Linked DNA regions of Homo sapiens. The protein of the gene in region 1 interacts with the protein of each later gene in a pairwise test. Each region holds a gene or a part of one and is shown on either strand. Other genes may lie near its edges. The genes, in order: MAP4K3 and SORBS1.

Region 1 (3,821 bases):
TTATGTTATTTACTTTTATGGTGAGATGAGCAAAAAATGAATTGGAATGTAAAAGTCTAATTTTCTAAATTTCTTAGGTCAAATAGTTTTCATCACTTTGTGAAAATGGCACTTACCAAAAATCCGAAAAAAAGACCTACTGCTGAAAAATTATTACAGGTATTATTTTTGCCCTGAAATATATATATATATTTCAAAAGATAAAATGTTATTCAATCAGATTTATAGTAAGTGTTCTGCATTGTATTTAATTTTTATAGCATCCTTTTGTAACACAACATTTGACACGGTCTTTGGCAATCGAGCTGTTGGATAAAGTAAATAATCCAGATCATTCCACTTACCATGATTTCGATGATGATGATCCTGAGGTAGGAATTGCTTTTACCAGCGGGCATATATAACATGTATATGTGTATGTATATATGTGTGTCTGTATGTACGTCTCAAAATCCATTTTTTTAATTTTGGGGCCTAGTTTAAATAAAAAAGCTCTTGAGGGAACAATTAATTCTTTGTCTTTGCCTTTCATGGAAAGTCAAATGCTAGGTTTTTCTTACTGACTACTTATAGGTGACTATAGTGTGAAAATGGCAAAGGCATATCATTTAATCCACTTGTTGAAATCACTGTAGTTATTTCAAAATAGCCATTTTTGGTGAAGTTGCCAAATAATCATTCACTGTAAAAGGGAAAGCAAATGGGAAGTGCCTAAACAAGACATTTGAATATTCAAAATTTCCCCTCAGTTTGCTTCTCAAAAAGAATCCTCAGTTTGGCCTGGTGGCTCATGTCTGTAATCCCATCACTTTGGGAGGCTGAAGCAAGAGGATTACTTGAGGCCAGGAGTTTGAAACCTGCCTGGTCAACATAGCAAGACCCCGTTTCTATCTTTAAAAAAAAATTCTTATATAATACTTCATAAATTATTAGAGGTTAGTAGGAAGTATAGGCTTGACTTTGCCAGTGACTAAAACTCAGCTATTCACTATGGAAATGTTTTAAAATGAGCCAGTATAGTTGTTAATAAAATAATTCTAATATGACAGAAGCATTGATATTAATGGAAGCTTCACTTCTGTTTGCATATGTAACATTCCTAGCACTGCTAATAGTTGTGGCAACCAAGATAAATTCAGTATATGTGACATGGCAGAATTCTGTTATTGGGTCTGTAACAGAAGTGGATAGGCTTTAACTCTACTGGCTTTATGGGAGGCCCTTAAAAATATTGTAAATTTCATTAATGACTGAAGGTGAAGTGTTTAGAAAGACGGCCACAGATTGTCTTAAGTCAGAGAGAACCTTTCTATCAATTCAGCATTGTCCCAGCTTGCCATCTTATGATAGATAAGCTATTTGTCCTTTTGTTTAAGGGTCTGGAAAAGAGTTTGGAGCTTAAAAATGTAAGGAATGTAAAGTATAATTAATCTTATAATTATACTCTGAAGAAGTTTTTTTTGTTTTGTTTTTGTTTTTTTTTGAGATGAGTCTTACTCTATTACCCAGGCTGGAGTGCAATGGCATGCTCTCAGCTCACTGCAGCCTCTGCCTCCTGGGTTCAAACGATTCTCCTGCCTCAGCCTCCTGAGTAGCTGGGATTACAGGAGCCCACCACCATGCCCAGCTAATTTTTGTATTTTTAGTAGAGATGGGGTTTTACCACATTGGCCAGGTTGGTCTCGAACTCCTGACCTTGTGATCTGCCTGCCTCGGCCTCCCAAATGCTGGGATTACAGGCATGAGCCACCGCACCTGGCCTGAAGAAGTTTTTTGGTGTTGATTTGCTTAATTTTATTTTTAAGAAAGTTAAGTTTTACAAACTCTTCTAGTCTTATTTAGTATACAGGCAGTCCTTGATGTGCATGGTAGTATGGGACTGTAAAAATGACTGCATAAGCTAAAATTCTGCAAAGTAATCTTAATAATCAGGAAAAATTATAATTGTTTCATGACTTTTAAAATTTTTTGTTAAAGCATAAACTCTGTTACTGTCAGTTGTAATTGTAGAAATGTGAAAAAATAGTAAAACTATTATTTACAGTGTATTATAAATATTAGAATCATCGAGAGTTAATGTGTTTCATTTCTTTGTTAATGAACTTTTCATGCACTTTTTTTACTTATCTAGTAGTCTGCTTATTGAGTAGTTTGCCTTTTCATCATGTGTCTGTGACACAGAGCAAGTATCTTTTCTATGCCTTGGCAAATTGTCATATTGCTTTCTAATTTTCTTTCTAATCATGATCATGATGTGCATCTGTTATTTACGTAGTAATTTGTGAACTGAAAGGCTACCAATAAAGTTTATACTTTATGCAATTTCAATTAATATACAGTGGTAACTGTTATTTGAACCATGATGTAGGGAACTAGTGTTATTTAACTAAATTATGGTAACTGAAATTGGTGCATAACAAAGCTGTAAAACAAGGACTGCCTATATCCTTTTCAGTGCACTAAATGCTACATGATTGTTTCTTACCTCACCCTATGTACTTGTCATGTCTTTTTAAAAATGTACTCAAAGAACAGAAATAATAAACCAAATAGAGAAGCAATCTGTGGAATGAAGATTCTTCTAAAACTTTCTCATATAGCAGGGAAAGAAACTCATCTTTCTTATCCAGACATTGTTTTGGTATTATAATTATAAATTGTTACAAATCTCTATGGTAAGTAGGTAAAATAAAGGAATTTAATTATTCCAGGGGTAGGATGAGGGGAAGCTGTTACATTCCCTCTCACAGTAGCTTAGAATAATGTTTTTCTTAAGAGAAATTCATAACTTTTTTATTTGCAAATGATTTGTAATTGTAATTGCTAAGTGCAGTGTTGTCACTCAAAATACGAATGTATCTAAGAATTTCAGCACTTACTGTGATACTAGAACTATTGTATGCATACTCTTAAAAATAAGGGTGGGCTCAGTGGCTTATGCCTGTAATCCCAGCACTCTGGAAGACCGAGGCAGGTGGATCACCTGAGGTCAGGAGTTTGGGACCAGCTTGGCTAACATGGTGAAACCCCGTCTCTACTAAAAATACAAAAATTAGCCGGGCATGGTGGCTCATGCGTGTAATCCCAGCTATTCAGGGGGCTGTGGCAAGAGAATTGCTTGAACCTGGGAGGCAGAGGTTATAGTGAGCCAAGATCATGCGACTGCACTCCAGCCTGGGCAACAGAGCGAGACTCCATCTCAAAAAAAAAAAACAAAAAATAGAAAAAGAAAAATATATATATATGTGTATTTATCTATATATACATATATACACACACACACACACACACACACATATACCACATCTAAGTCTAGTTTAAGTTTTTTATAGGTTATGCACTGTGGAAGAAAGTTTGACTTTTTAATGTTGAGTTCCCCTGTAGTTTCTATTTTAGAAGTAATTACACACTGGTGTAATTCTAATTCTGATTTTTATTCAGTTTTCGTCTCCTATATGTAAGCCCACTTACTATGTACAGCATTATAAGATTTAACAATTTTATTAATCTGTTATGCTAATAAATTAATAATTTATTGTGCTGTTTAAGCCGGGAAGGTAAAACTGTTCTCAGAAATAATCATGAGTTTCATCCATGTTCATTAATAACAGTCTGTATGAGTAACCTGCATGTTACCTGTTTTTGTTTGGTTTTGCTACTGTATATTAGATCAAAAGTCTAGGGTTTTTCCTAGCTCTATGGCTAGCTAGCTGAATGCCCTGCCACTTAATTTTAAGTCTCAGTATCCTCATCTATGAAATTGAAGGGGTGGGTTGCCCCTCCACACCTGTGGGTGTTTCTCGTTAGGTGGAAGGAGAGAC
Region 2 (3,821 bases), on another chromosome or scaffold:
CTCTTTAGTTCAGCAAGGAGAATAATGGCTGACAATTTTCTTGATACACAAACTGGTCTGGAATGCATTTTTCCAAATAAGCAACACAGCCTGTGGTCACGTCATCCTGATGGGGCTGCCAGAGAACAGTTGTCATACAAGTCCTTCCCATTTTTAGCATGTCTGTCACCCAAAGGGGGCCCAAGACACAGGAGCCCCTTCTGAAGGACCCCGTTTCCAGAGTTGTCAGCTCCTGCTCCAGCCACAGGAGGGGAAAGTGAGGGGGCTGAAGGGGAGGTGTGGGCAGCAGCCCTTTTCACACAAATGCCAGCTCTCAAGGGGGAGCGAGCCCCAGGCCACAGCCTGTGCACACCCATGGAGAAGGGGCTTGTGCCAGGAGGGCAGGAGGAAGGGAGGGGACAGGAAGTGGTACACTTGGGGTCTGGAGGCCCACCAAGAAAGGAACACCAAGTTTCAACAAGCCTGGCTTTCCAATCAACATAATCTTCAGTGTTGCCAGCTACTCCCCTCCTATCCTGCCTTAGGAAGCAGGAAGCGTATACCCCTAACCTTACTCGGAGATCCGGCACCGTGCGCACTTCCTATACACACAGGATCCTGGAATTGGGCCGGGATGATGACTCAACACTGACGATAAGGATGTCCCCGGGTGCCTTGGGTTGACTTAGAATGTTTATAGAATTGTTCCTGTGTCAGAAACGTTTAATTCTTTTCAACTAGCCACTTCACCATCTCTTCTATTCCTTCCTCAACCTGTTCCAGGGCCAGGCAAAGCCTTTGCCAGGTATTACTGCTTTCCTACAGCCCTCCACAGCAGCGGGTGACCCCACATATGGAGCCTTGGCACATGCCAAGCACCGACTTCCATGAATTACCTCACTGAATCCTTATGACTGCCCTACAAGGGATGGACTGCTTCCACTCCTGCTTAGCATGTGAGAGGTTAAGTGGCTTTCTAGCAAAAGGCTAAGCCTGATTTCTTATAAACTGCCCCATGCCGGCTCACCCTCAGTGATCCCCACTCCTGATGTGCTGGCCCACCCATGGGCCCACATGTGCTTGGCTGGAGCTGGAAGTCTGGCCTAGTGTGTCTCAAGCCTCTGTGCTCCTGTGTCCCCCAAGCATGCCTCTATTATTGCCCTGGTGATATTGCTAGGCTCCTCCTTGTTTTGAGGAGCCTTGAACTTAGGGTTCTCAAGAGGAGAGACAAATGACCTTTGTATTCTGCCCAGAGGCTGGTACCTGCAGGCCTTATTCATAGACTGAATAACTACAGCCTCAAAGGGAAACTGAGGTTGCAAGCCTAAGGGTTAAGCACTATTTACTGTGGACATCAGACATACTAGATACTTAATAAATGGCTTGGAGACATCTTCAGGAACTCAATCTGGGTCTAAGGAAGTTCTAAAAATATTCTCAGTTCTAGAAGCAATTCTAGATCACCCAAGATGGTGGCTCTATAGCTTCCGTTTATAAAGTGCTGACCATGTTCCCAGGATCATAAGCCCTTGTAATCAACCACTCTTTGAGGTAGGTGCTATCATCTCCATTTTACAGATGAGGAAACTGAGTCTCAGACAGGGGAAGCAACTCCCAAGTCACTAGACTGTAAGAGGTGGAGCTGGCATTCAAACCTGGTTGCTTCTGAGAAGTTGCCGAAAGTCTTTGACTTTCGCAGTAGTCAACAGCATAGCCAAAATCAGAATTGTGATTTGTTTAGTTGCTAAGTTCATTTCTCCAAAAAAATTTTCAGGTCTCAAAACACCCTAAGGCTACCTTTGTCCAAATGCTCTCTGGGTCTTTGTAGCTGACCCAGAGAGAAGATGGTACACTCACCCCAAAACCTGGCATGGCTATTCGAGGATACCCCATGTCAGTCAGGGCCCCAGGAGACCTGCATTCTCCTCTCCAGAACCAAAACACCTTTGTTTCATAGCAAACAAAGGCCCCGCGCTCCCACACAAACACGAGACAGGACAAAGACCTGACAGAGCCGAGCACTAGCAGAGCACCATGGGTTATGGAAACAAAGTGCATCTTACATAAAAGCAAACCACACCACACCAAAGCCTGGTGTTCTCAGCTGTGTTAGTCAAAGCAAACTGAGGGTCATCTCTAAGGCATACATGGGATGTGAGGAAGGTCTGCCTTCTCAGAGGCCCTTGCAGCAGGCCAGGAGGCATTCAAAGTAGAGATAACTTCCAAATGACCTCAAGTGGCCAGATATAGCCTGTCCTTTCCCTCCAACTGTATCCAGTCCTGGCACCTGAATTCATGTCCTCCCATTCCCTCTGGGGCCATCTCTTTGCTCCTGAGGCAAGCAAATGGTCTCACCAGCATTCACTTGGCCTCCGTAGATGGACCAGGGGCGAGACGTGCAGCCCACCCTGCCAAGTGAGACGCCAAGTGCACACGCGGCATGCTGCAGTCCTACCTGGCTCCCACCTCTCCGAGCAGCTTTCCTCCCCGCCTGCTCGCCACCTCTATGCCGCTCTGTCTGCTCAGCCTCACTTCCTGGAAAAGCGCTACCCAGGGGCTTGCCGGGCCGGCTCTCCTCAGGGGTGTTGAGATCTGAGAGTCTCTGTTCAGTACTCAGGCACCTGACCACGTCTGAAGGCTTCAAGCAGCTCTTCTTAGAGATCTTGGGTCCACCAGGGCCTCTTTCGCCTGCCCCCCTCTCTGCTTTCCTCTCATATTGTCCACTCTCTTCGCGCCATGGCTGCCTCTTGCTCTGGCTGCTAAAGGCATCACTAAGCTGGGAGATGACACTATCAGAGCTCCCCAGCGGCAGCTGCAAGAAGCTATCTTGGTGGATGCCTGAAGATGGCGTGTGGACACCACCGTCTCCATTCATGTGAAGGGAGGCCTGGGAAGTAGGTGCTAGGGAGTAGGTTTTGTGTGGGGAAGGTAGGGCCAGTGGAGAAGCTACTGATCGTGGGGTGGGACGATCTGACCAACTCAAATGGGGGAGGCTGAGAGACAGGGAGGGACTGGCCCTTGGTGACAAGGCGAGGTGGTCAGTGTTATAGATAGAAGCCTCTGGCAGAGGAGGCAAGGGTGGGGTCAGGGCCAGAGAACGCCTGCCTGGGACCCCCACAGTCAGTGAGATCCACTCAGAGGTGACAGCGTGCATCTCGGGGGACAGGGCTCGGCGGGAGTGGGGCAGAGATGAGGGGGCTGGCGTGATGAGCTTGCTGTGACTGGAAAACTTAAAAAGAAGAAAAGAGAGGAAAACAAAAGAAAGAAGCAAAAGGTACAAGTGTCAGCATAAAGGAAAAAGAAGGAAAATAATCACAAGGGGTATATAAAGAGGAATGAAATGGAGAGGATGAGCAAGGACACTCTGGTGTCCAAAAAGGAAATCCTCAGGTTACATCTGGGGAGAAACCAGGATGGGTGAGTGTGCGTTTGAGCATGTGCGAGCGTGATCCTGATGTGTGCAGGCAGGGGGTGGAGGAAGCAGTGAGAGGTGTGGAGATGGGGAGAGGTTCCCGTCAGAGTAGTGACGGATGAGGCCGCCCTGCTTTGCAGAATCAGATTTTCAAAGGGACACATTGGAAGCTCCCCATCCCAGCCAACCCAGCCCCTGTGCATCCAGATCCCTGACCCGGAACCATACGGGGAAAGGTGGCCCCACACTGCCATGGCCCTTCCCTGGGGTTTTATTTTCTCTGGGAGCTCAGCAGAGTCTTCCAGAGAGGAGTATGAGTAGTGTACTAGTTTTGTTTTACAATCACTCTTGGCTAGTCAAGTGAAAAATGTAGTTGAGTTCCCTGCATCCTTACAAAGAAGAATGTCCCACTCCAGTCACACACTCTGTC

Evidence for each region.
Region 2: the proteins of MAP4K3 (region 1) and SORBS1 interact in a two-hybrid assay, tested with the Homo sapiens proteins (one large-scale study listed by BioGRID and IntAct).

What each region holds. Positions count from the first base shown.
Region 1 is NC_000002.12:39,322,068-39,325,888, reverse strand, and holds part of MAP4K3 (mitogen-activated protein kinase kinase kinase kinase 3), read left to right. Parts: intron 1-77; coding exon 78-159; intron 160-260; coding exon 261-371; intron 372-3,821. UniProt on the Homo sapiens protein: Serine/threonine kinase that plays a role in the response to environmental stress. Appears to act upstream of the JUN N-terminal pathway.
Region 2 is NC_000010.11:95,334,087-95,337,907, forward strand, and holds part of SORBS1 (sorbin and SH3 domain-containing protein 1), read right to left. Parts: intron 3,209-3,821; coding exon 2,435-3,208; intron 1-2,434. UniProt on the Homo sapiens protein: Plays a role in tyrosine phosphorylation of CBL by linking CBL to the insulin receptor. Required for insulin-stimulated glucose transport. Involved in formation of actin stress fibers and focal adhesions.